2 separate regions of the Homo sapiens genome follow, and region 1 is linked to region 2. The links come from fine-mapping of genetic effects on gene expression. Tissue or cell type: monocytes after interferon gamma. Region 2 holds a variant in brackets; the other region holds the start of a gene. All regions are shown on one strand. Distances are from middle to middle.

What was found. PIP is the estimated chance that this variant, and not a neighbour inherited with it, causes the effect.
Region 1: MAN1A1 starts here. The variant in region 2 is fine-mapped to the expression of MAN1A1 in monocytes after interferon gamma (Fairfax 2014, PIP 0.95).

What each region holds. Positions count from the first base shown.
Region 1 is chr6:119,347,583-119,352,582 of GRCh38, reverse strand. MAN1A1 (mannosidase alpha class 1A member 1) reads left to right here and starts at 2,822. Exons shown (of 13, transcript NM_005907.4): 1 at 2,822-3,041; 2 at 3,296-4,120. The coding sequence starts at 3,518. RefSeq lists silencers at 2,262-2,901, 3,412-3,611, 3,672-3,791 and an enhancer at 4,002-4,351.
Region 2 is chr6:119,151,077-119,156,328 of GRCh38, reverse strand. No RefSeq gene overlaps it. Among named protein-coding and RNA genes, the nearest start is that of FAM184A, 75 kb to the right of the region's middle. The variant C/T (reference allele first, on the strand shown) is at 3,143.

The DNA.
Region 1 (5,000 bases), 200 kb before region 2:
TGGGGATTTCTTTGTAGTGTTTTGTGGTATCACTGATGATCAGGTTTTTAAAAAATTACTTGATTCAAAGATATAATCTTGAAACACAAAAATTTACAAATTATCAAAGAAATACACAAAAACATTAAGTATTGAAAAAGGAAAATGTAAGAATTAAGTTTGCAAGCAAACCTGCAAAAATTACAAGAGAGTTATACTTCAAAAGGACTGGCTGGCCAAATAAAAAAACATAGCAAGTATTTTTTTAAAAATCCCACAAAATTACTAAGGTTCTTAGGTTTACATTAGACCATCCATAATGAGAAACAGCAATTTCAGCACTATCATTGCATTCATAAAGATGGTGACATTACCTTCAGGTAGATGTGGCTAGGGAGTCTTGACTTAGGGGACAAAGTCAAGGTTTCATTACTTAAAAGACAAGAACCAATCACCTTTATTTTTATCTCAGGGTACAAAGTACTTTTTTCAATGGTAGAATGTCAAGTGCTTTGTAGTACTGAAATCAGAGGAAAGTGTCCGATTTTGCTTCTACAAAATGCACAATTTTACTTGTTGACTATTTTCTACTCCTCCCTTACCATGAGCACACAGGGCTTCATGTGATTATTTTAAAGAGGATGCATAATTCGATTGCTATGCCTCTTCAGATACCTTCTTTGTGAATTTTTCAAATTTGCTCTGGCCCAAATATTGGTGTTCCTATATAGTTCTTATCCCACCTAATGTACACAGACACCCTTTAATATGTACCTATAATCAACCACCCATGTTAACTTCTTGTTTAACATATTATCAAAGCCAGGCTGCAAGTATAACCCTGTCATTTAAGAAATACGGAAAATAAGAAAAAAATCTTAAAATAAGCTTCATGATGAACTTAAAAAGAATAGTTACTTTAAAAGATGTAGAAACAACATAGATAAATTTAAAGTTTTTAGGGGAAAAAATCCTTAAACCCACGTACTAAATTTTTAATATTTCCACTACAGAAGTTAAATGCCCAAACTGATTTGGTATCAAAATTAAAGTGTCAGAAATAGAATTAAGTTATAACTTTTATTTATCACCATTTTAACATATACTTAAAAGTGGAATTTATTGTTTTGCTGGAATACTTAATAACATTAATTTGAAATAAAGCTTCTAAATATTTCCGGGGCTATAATTCCATTCTTACAACATAATTTTTAAAATAATAAATCATTCCAAAAAAGGATGATCATAAAGAGATTAGCGTTTGGGGTAGTTAACCCAGTTCCTATTTATCTATCCATTCAAGAGGTAACTCAGTTTTAAGGATGTTGTTAGAAACATTATTTCACAGTGATTCAAACCTTTCAGCCTATGCACAACCTACAAATGCATAATCGTTTGAAATAAAAATTGCCTTTCCATCATTAAAGAAAAATCATCTTTGTTTTCTTTTTCAGTCCTTCTGAACTTATTACCCTGCTTGGATATGCTGCACTCTTCTGGACATAGAATTTCATAGCAGGTATCAAAATAACCAAGCCATAAAGCCAGCTTTATCAAACAATAATTTCCTATTAACAAGAACTTTGAGTGTATTACTCATTTTACACAAAACAAGTAGACGACAAATAATGATGGTTAAAATTAATAATTAAATGATTAAATGAAAACTAGTAAGGATTTCTGATTACTTTTCTACTTTCTCATACAGCTTAACACCTGGAAACAACTGTACTGGAGCCACCTTCCCGAAAGGTGCCAGCTGTTTCCTTTGTCTTAAGCACAAACAGAACTAATGTCACATTTCCAGAGAAGGGTAAGGATGAAATAAGGCGACTACAAACCAGCTTTCAGAAATGCGAAGTCAGTCAACGTTTTCCTCTCTGATAACCCCTTATTTGTGGAGCAACAGGAGAATTACAACACATTTTGGAAAATAATTTCTATTGGACCAACTCCTCACTTCGCTGGAAGTAGTCGGATCCAAGACTTAATTTCAACACAGTGTTCGACTTATTGCTTGAAGCTACCGCAGCATAAAACTCGTCTTCGAATGGAAAATTTGACCAACTTCTATGAGGTAAATGAATAGTGAAAGTACGGGTGGGCGGGAGAGACATACAAGTTTTTTCGGTTTTTTGTTTTTTGGGGGAAGAAAGGGCGCATACGAAAAAAGTCCTAAGCAAGCACAGAACTGTGTCTCTTAGGATGTAAAAGGATGTTATACCAGAGAGCTCAAAAGCTCCCAGGGTCACGGCTCCCCTAACCGAGGGACTTGGGGTTTCACTGCTACCAGGCACCCGGGGAACCCCGGCCTTGGATAAAAAGAGGGTAACTGGAGTAAAGCCGTGCTTCTGAACGACCCAGCGCCCAGGACCCCCTGCCAGACCCCGCCTTTCCCGGGACCCCCTCGGGAGCGCCCCCGACCGCCCCGCACGGGTCGGAGGAGGAGGCAGAGAGGTCCCGCGCGGACCCAGGCGCCTCCCGGGCCAGTCGAGGATCAACCACCCCGGGGACCCCTGCCGAGGCCAGCGCAGGATAAACTCCCCGACCCCGAACTCTGCCTGCCGCTTCTCGGCGCTGGGCCTCAGCCACGGGTTCGACCGTCCTCCTCACCGCGGCTCCCGCCTACCTCGCGCCTCCCGGCCCCGCGACCTCCCCGCCGCCGGCCGGGCCCCGCCGAGGCTGCGCTTCCCGTAAACTCCCCGCCCCGCGCATCCCCCTCCTCGCCTCGGCCCCGCCCCCGCGGGACCCTGGGCGGCGCGTGATTGGCCCGGCCGCGCCGTCACTCTCCGGCCGCGTCGCCTCCCTCGCTTTCCACCGCCCCAAGACCGGCAGTGAGATTAGTGCTCGCGGGGCCGCGGCGGAGTGTACCGTGCTGCTCTACTCGCTGCCATTCGCCCGCAGGTCGGCGCGCTCGCCCACCTGAGCCGCGCCGGGGCTGCGGGACCGTGGGACAGCGCGCTCAGCCCAGCCTAGGAAAGAGGCAGCAGTCTCAGCGCGGAGATGGGGAGCGGGCGAAGTTGACGAGTCTCCCGCCCACGCTGCGCCCCTCCTGCCCAGAGGTGCGCTGCCCCTCCCCGAGGTGCTCGCGCGCTGCCCTGACCCCTTCCTGCGCGGGACACCCCTCCCCTACCCACGGGACCTGATAACTTCACCCCAAGTCCAGAGAGTGGGCTGCGAGGGCGGTGCCCGGACTGGACAGGACTCTGCTTAAGGGGAGCGGTCCTGGAGGCTCGCCAGGAGTCGGAGGGCGGAGACCCGCTGGAAACTTTATCATCGCCGTAATTACTACGTTTTACTGTTTCTCTCCCCGCAGGGGCTGCAGCCAGCGGTCTGTCGCGCGTGCCTGTGTGCCCGAGGAGCCGCCCCGGGGAGAAGACCCGGCGCGGAGTTGTTCCCCCAGGGAGGATCCGCAGCCCAGCCGAGGGGGTCGGGCGGCCTGGCTACGCAGGACCCAGCCCCGCAGCCGCGGACTCCCAGCGGCGGCGAAGTTTGGCTGCTGAGCGGCGCGGCGCCGGACCACTGGACAGCGGGAGCGATGCCCGTGGGGGGCCTGTTGCCGCTCTTCAGCAGCCCCGCGGGCGGCGTCCTGGGCGGGGGGCTCGGCGGCGGCGGTGGCAGGAAGGGGTCGGGCCCCGCCGCCCTCCGCCTGACGGAGAAGTTCGTGCTGCTGCTGGTATTCAGCGCCTTCATCACGCTCTGCTTCGGGGCGATCTTCTTCCTGCCAGACTCCTCCAAGCTGCTCAGCGGGGTCCTGTTCCACTCCAGCCCCGCCTTGCAGCCGGCCGCCGACCACAAGCCCGGGCCCGGGGCGCGCGCCGAGGACGCGGCCGAGGGGCGAGCCCGGCGCCGCGAGGAGGGGGCACCCGGGGACCCGGAGGCCGCCCTGGAGGACAACTTGGCCAGGATCCGCGAAAACCACGAGCGGGCTCTCAGGGAAGCCAAGGAGACCCTGCAGAAGCTGCCCGAGGAGATCCAAAGAGACATCCTACTGGAGAAGAAGAAGGTGGCCCAGGACCAGCTGCGTGACAAGGCGCCGTTCAGAGGCCTGCCCCCGGTGGACTTCGTGCCCCCAATCGGGGTGGAGAGCCGGGAGCCCGCCGACGCCGCCATCCGCGAGAAAAGGGCAAAGATCAAAGAGGTGAGTGGGCCGCGCCAGAAATCCCTCCCGACCGGCCGTGTTTTTCAGGGAGAAACGGCAAGCCTTTGAAACTCTGAAGACTGCAACAATGCAATGTATGGGGAGATGGAGGTTTGCCCCTTCCACCAGGTGCTGTGTCAAAAGCTCTTTCTTTTCCTGTTTCCAATATAGTAGTAGATGTGTCCAGTAAGATCTAAGGTCAAATCTCGTTGCTTTTAATTTGCATGCTCTTGCTCTGGTGACCACAAGCCACACGAGGTGGGTATAAATACATGGGCAGGTAATACGCAAACCTCATTCTCTGGCCGCTACACGGTTAATCGCCCCACCAGTAACAGCGACGGCACTGATCAGCCCCCTGGTAAGGATTGGGGACGTGGCTTTAAAGTGAGTCTTCACGCGTGGTAAAGCTAGCCAGCATACCCCGGGTTCAGCTGTGTGGCCCTTGTCTGCCAGGTGGCATTCTGTGTGTACTTTCAGACTATAAAGGTGAAACCTGAGAACTTCCCATCATCGAGGGATACTATTGTTTACTTTTTTAAAAAATGAAAATATAAAAAGCCAGTCGGCTGCCTCTTGTATTTCTAATGCACAGCCAGAAATAGGGTATTCCATGTGATGCAACAGGTTTGCCTCCACAGCAGCACAATGGTGACAAAGTTAATCCAGGATAAACATGGACTTTGATACATCTTTCCTAATTTCCTTCTCGTAATTTTCAGTTAGAACTTGAAACATGTGATTAGGTCAGGACCAGCTTAAAGCTGAAGGGGGCCGTAAAAAGTCCTTTCAGGCTGTCATTTTCAAGATGAAGATCGAAGGGCCCAGAGCTCTAGAACCCGTTAGTGATGAGTCAGGACTTGAAGCCCGAGGTCCGAAC
Region 2 (5,252 bases):
AACCCACACAACTTCTAAGAGGAGAGGCGGGTGCTTGGTATTCTGACTCTCTTGACACTCTTCTGAGCCATGTGACCTTCTTGTGCTCCATCCTGTACCATCAGCTGTGTCTTACCATACAAGTCACTCAGCCTCTATCCCACTTGCTGCTGAAGACCATAACCCAGTGGCAGGAAGGATTTACACAGATGTCTTCCTGGTGCACAGCTGGTGTCTATAACCAGTTCTGGATTTTTCACCCTGTGGCAATTTCTACTTGGTTCAGTTAAAATCAATAGCCACTTAGGTTTTTAGATGAGAATGGACTGTCTCTAAATAAATATAAAGATATGCTGTTCCTCATGCTCTGGCATTGCTTATACAACATATTGGACTAAAGTATACCTATCTCCTCTTATTTTTCTTTTTTTACAAGGTCCTCAAACTCCTAGCCTAAGGGATCCTCCCATCTCAGCCTCCCAAAGTGCTGGTGAGCCATGTCACCTGGTCTCCCATCTCCTCTTCTAATGGGCTATTTTAGGCAGCAAGAAGAAAGGATGATCTGCTGCCCCACACTGTCTTTACAGAATCAGCGTGTCCTTGGTTGGGTGCGGTGGCTCACACCTGTAATCCCAGCAGTTTGGGAGGCTGAGGCAAGCAGATCGCCTGAGGTCAAGAGTTTGAGACCAGCCTAGCCAACATGGTGAAACCCCGTCTCCACTAAAAATACAAAACTTAGCCAGGTGTTGTGGCGCATGCCTGTAACCCCAGCTACTTAAGAGGCTGAGGCAGGAGAATTGCTTGAACCCAGGAGGCGGAGGTTGCAGTGAGCCGAGATCACATCACTGCACTTCAGCCTGGGGGACAGAGCGAGACTTTGTCACAAAAAAGAAAAAAAAAAAGAATCAGCATCTCCTTGAGTTTGTATTAGAGCCCAGAGTACTCTTCAGAGGGTTACCAGGGGCATAAACTCAGGGGGTCAGTTCAGTTAGGGCAATAGGTGTTCAGGATGACTGAAAGCTATATAAAAATGCATTTACCTTTTATCCCTTTCACCTAAAGAGTGCACGCCTGAATGGGCTCCATCAATCTCAGCTTTTTCAAAATCCTTCTTTGGCTGTCATGGGAATGTCCAGAGCACCCAGGTTTGGGGTCAGAGGGTGAGGAAGATAGAGGGTTGGATTATAAGCCTGGCTGTGTTAAAGATACAGTTCAGGAGCTGGTCACAAGGCTACAGTATTCAAAAGTATTGGGCCGCTATCTTTCAAGAAAGGACAATCGGCAAACTAACAGCTAGTAACCATGTTCACCTTTACCCAGTGTCACTAATGAAAGGCAGAAAATGCCAGTCTTTACTCAAATACACTGCCCTGAACATCTTAGGAGAAAAAGAAGAGTTTTTCAAATCTATTCTAAGCACATAGTCAGAAATGCAAGCAGGAATTTATATTCAAACTTTTCATTGCTAAATGTCTTTTATAATAGTGAAAAATTAAAACCAAACTACAGTGTAAGTAACAAGAGAAATAGCTAAAATTAAGGCAAATTGATAAGTCAGAATGTTGTATAGCCACTAAACAGGATGTTAAGCCAAAAAAGTTAATGATGTAACAAAATAGTCATGATTATGTAAAAAGCAGGATTTAAAATTATATATGCAATATAAGTTTTTAATTTGACATGAAAGGATTCTGCATCATTATTATTTTCTTCTGTGATTTCCTGATTTTCTGTAACATGTATTATTTGCATAATCTGGAAAAACTAAAAAGAAAACTAGGAATTTTAAGTGGAGAAGAAAGTCACTTCACATAGGATACATTAGATGTTTCTCCAAATAGGTAACTTCCTGACTGATTGAAAATATGATTTAATTTCCATGTACAATTCAATAATTGAACAAATATTTATTAAGTACCTACAATTTGCCAGGTAACTTATTTATCCGTGCAATAAATATTTACTGGAGACTGAGTAAGAGGTATAGGAAATAATAAAATAAATTCTCTTCCCTCTTGGAGCCAAGAATCTGCTAGGAAATGGTGATACTGAGATAAAAGACAAAACTCTCCCCTCAAGTAATGTCACAGTCCAGAAGGAGAGACAGACAAGTTAATAAAAAGTGATGCTGCCCAGCATCAGAGCTAATACTCTGCTAAGGGTATATTAGGGTGTAACCTAAAAAGATCTCCAAAGCGAAAAAGGAAGAGAGCCTGACAGGGGCTGTTGGTCAGCAGCCTAGTCCTCAGCTAGAATACAGGGAGACTTCTCCTGGTTTCTTTCTTTTGACTTCTATTAATTCCCTAATTCATTATCCCCTCCACCCAAGGGGTTTCAACTGTGTTCAAAATAGGTAACTTAGATACCACTTTAAATTAAAAACCAAAAAGATCTGAATTCCCCCTGTTCATACCCACCCCACCACTAAGCAGAAGAATCGGCCACCACCATTTCTTAAGAATACTAAGGAAATCGGGGTTTAACAGCAACAATGACAAAAAGGCCTAGAGACAAGGCAAAGAAAGTTGAGGAAAGAGCCAGCGTTTGTCTTCAGTCTCCACCTTTCCTTTCCACCTCCTAAATGGCTTTTAAACGTCTTCAGTGACACACTGATAAAATCCTACACTTGTGTATCACTTTGCACAGGAGAGTCTTATAGGGTTAGGGTCCCAGAGAGCCTAAATAGAATCTTGAGTCTGGTTTCATGTAATTCACGAGAGACTGGTGACCATTCCCTGCTCAGGTCTGTTTGCACATATTGATGTCTGTGGGAAATTGTTCTTGTTTTGTGCCTGCTGTTATTGTCACTGTTTGTTTGTATTGTGGCTGCAAGAAATAGAGAGATGCAAGGAGATGGAGAAGAGCAGTAAAGGAATGAGAAGAGTCTATGATCAACAAGCAGGGGACAAAAGTCAGGAGAAACTGTTTTTAATGAACATGTCACCTCATTGTACCTAAGTGCTGGTGGGGCTAAGGACATTCAAGTGCCACACATCATCTCTTAGAAGACCTACACTTCTTGGCCAGGTGCAGTGGCTCACACCTGTAATCCCAGCACTTTGGGAAACTGAGGTGGGTAAATCACCTGAGGTCAGGAGTTCAAGACCAGCCTGACCAACATGTTGAAACCCCGTCTCTACTAAAAATACAAAAATTAGCTGGG[C/T]GTGGTGGTGCATGCCTGTAATCCCAGCTATTCGGGAGGCTGAGGCAGGAGAATCACTTGAACCCGGGAGGTGGAGTTTGCAGTGAACCGAGATTGCGCCATTGCACTCCAGCCTGGTCAACAAGAGTGAAACTCCAACTCCAAAAAAAGAAAGAAAAAAAAAGACTTAAACTTCTCTCTGATCATGAAAAACCACAAAACAGAAAATCATATTTTCATGTATTTATTAATTCTCAGCTTTCCACCAAAGTTTTGATCTGCTGACCACAGACATCACTGTGACAACATTGAACTTTCAAGGATCTCAGAGTCATATTTAAAGCTTATTTACCAAAACTATGTGGCCCACCCCTCTCCAACATCTGAACATATTTTTCCTTAGTTTTGACTTTTTAGACTCTCTACTATTATGAGTAATTTCGTTGTTCCTGATTCCTTTATTTTATCTTATATTCTTTTCTTGTATGATGTCTGTGGTCAGAAGATCAAAACTTTGGTGGGAAGCTGAGAATTAATAAATACTTGAAAATATGATTTCCAACAATAGCTCCATGAAATAGGTATCCCATGTTGTGTCTCAGTTTTCCAGATGCAGAAGTTAAGGTGACGTGTCAAATTATCTACTGTTGTGTTTTGAGTCTTTTCATGTTAAAAGAGGGTGGTGCTTGCTAGAAAGAAGTGGATCACAACTTGGAATTTCTATAATTGGCGAGAGAGATCTTTGTCTTTCTCATATGCCCATAAGCCTAGTCCTGTCAGCTGATACCATCTTCTTCTTACTAATAAATTACCAGTCTGGCTAAGTAATGAAAAAAAAAATGATGGAAAAAGAACTGTCAGATGATGCAGTGTTTGCTCTGGGAAGTACCAGGGCCACAGAGAGGAGGACCAGTTACTGGAAGAAAAGAAAGAGAGATGGTGGAGAGCGCAGCAGTTTCAAATGAAAAATTAAATTAATTTTAAAATCTAATTTAAAGCAAAATAGAGCAGCAGATGTGGAGGGAGTTGAAACTCCTCCTTGAATTGTATCCCCTAAACTTTCCTGTTCTTTCATTCAGCCTGAACATCATCCTGTTTACACCAAATAGCAAAACTGGATTAATTAAGAAATAAAATACTCCAGACAGTTCATTTCTAGGGATGGTTTGTACACAGCATGTATGAGAGGAAGGAAATGCTTGAAATTTTAATTTCTCCAGAAAAAAAAGACCACCAAGGCTTCCTACCTCAAACTTTAAAAGCATATTTTCCTATAAAGCTGTCCTAATGATCTTTATGTCCCAGAATCAAGTATTAGTAAAATATGTATTTATTTTTGCAGCTTTTTTTTTTTTTTTTTTTTGGAGATGGAGTCTCACTCTTGTTGCACAAGCTGGAGTGCAGTGGCACTATCTCAGCTCACTGCAACATTTGCCTTCTGGGTTCCAGCAATTCTCCTGCCTCAGCCTCCTCAGTAGCTGGGATTACAGGCATGCGCCACCACACCCAGCTAATCTTTTTTTTTTTTTTTTTTTTTTTTTTTTTTTTGGATTTTAGTAGAGATGGGGTTTCCCCACGTGGCCCAGGCTGGTCTCCAACTCCTGAGCTCAGGCAATCCACCCGCCTCAGCCTCCCAAAGTGCTGGGATTACAGGCGTGAGCCACCGCACCTGGCCCACAGCTCATTTATTCTAACACCGAATACTTATTATTGAACCCTTCTATGAGTCAGGAGCTGTACAGGCTTCTCTGCTGTGTAGGTGGTTTTAGAGATTCTGATGGCTTACAGACAGTTAGGATGCCAAGATCCAAACTCAAGTTACAGGCCAGATAGGTTCTGCAAGACTTCTGCACAGTTGTCATCAGTGAGACAGTTCATATCAAGTAATTAAAGAATAAAACTGTTTCCTTTGTGCTGCTGCAGAACAAGTGTTAAAAAAAAAAAGCAGCCACCAAGGAGCCCTGCTATGAATCATGTGCCTTTCATGAGGTGAACTTCCCCTCCCCAGAGATGCGTGAACAGCAAATCAGGAATCCACGTCCCCACACTCGGTACTGCTGGTTTGTCTTGTGTTAGCCATGGATCTGACATCTGCCAAAACACCTCGCAATGTAATCACGGGTGTTGTCTG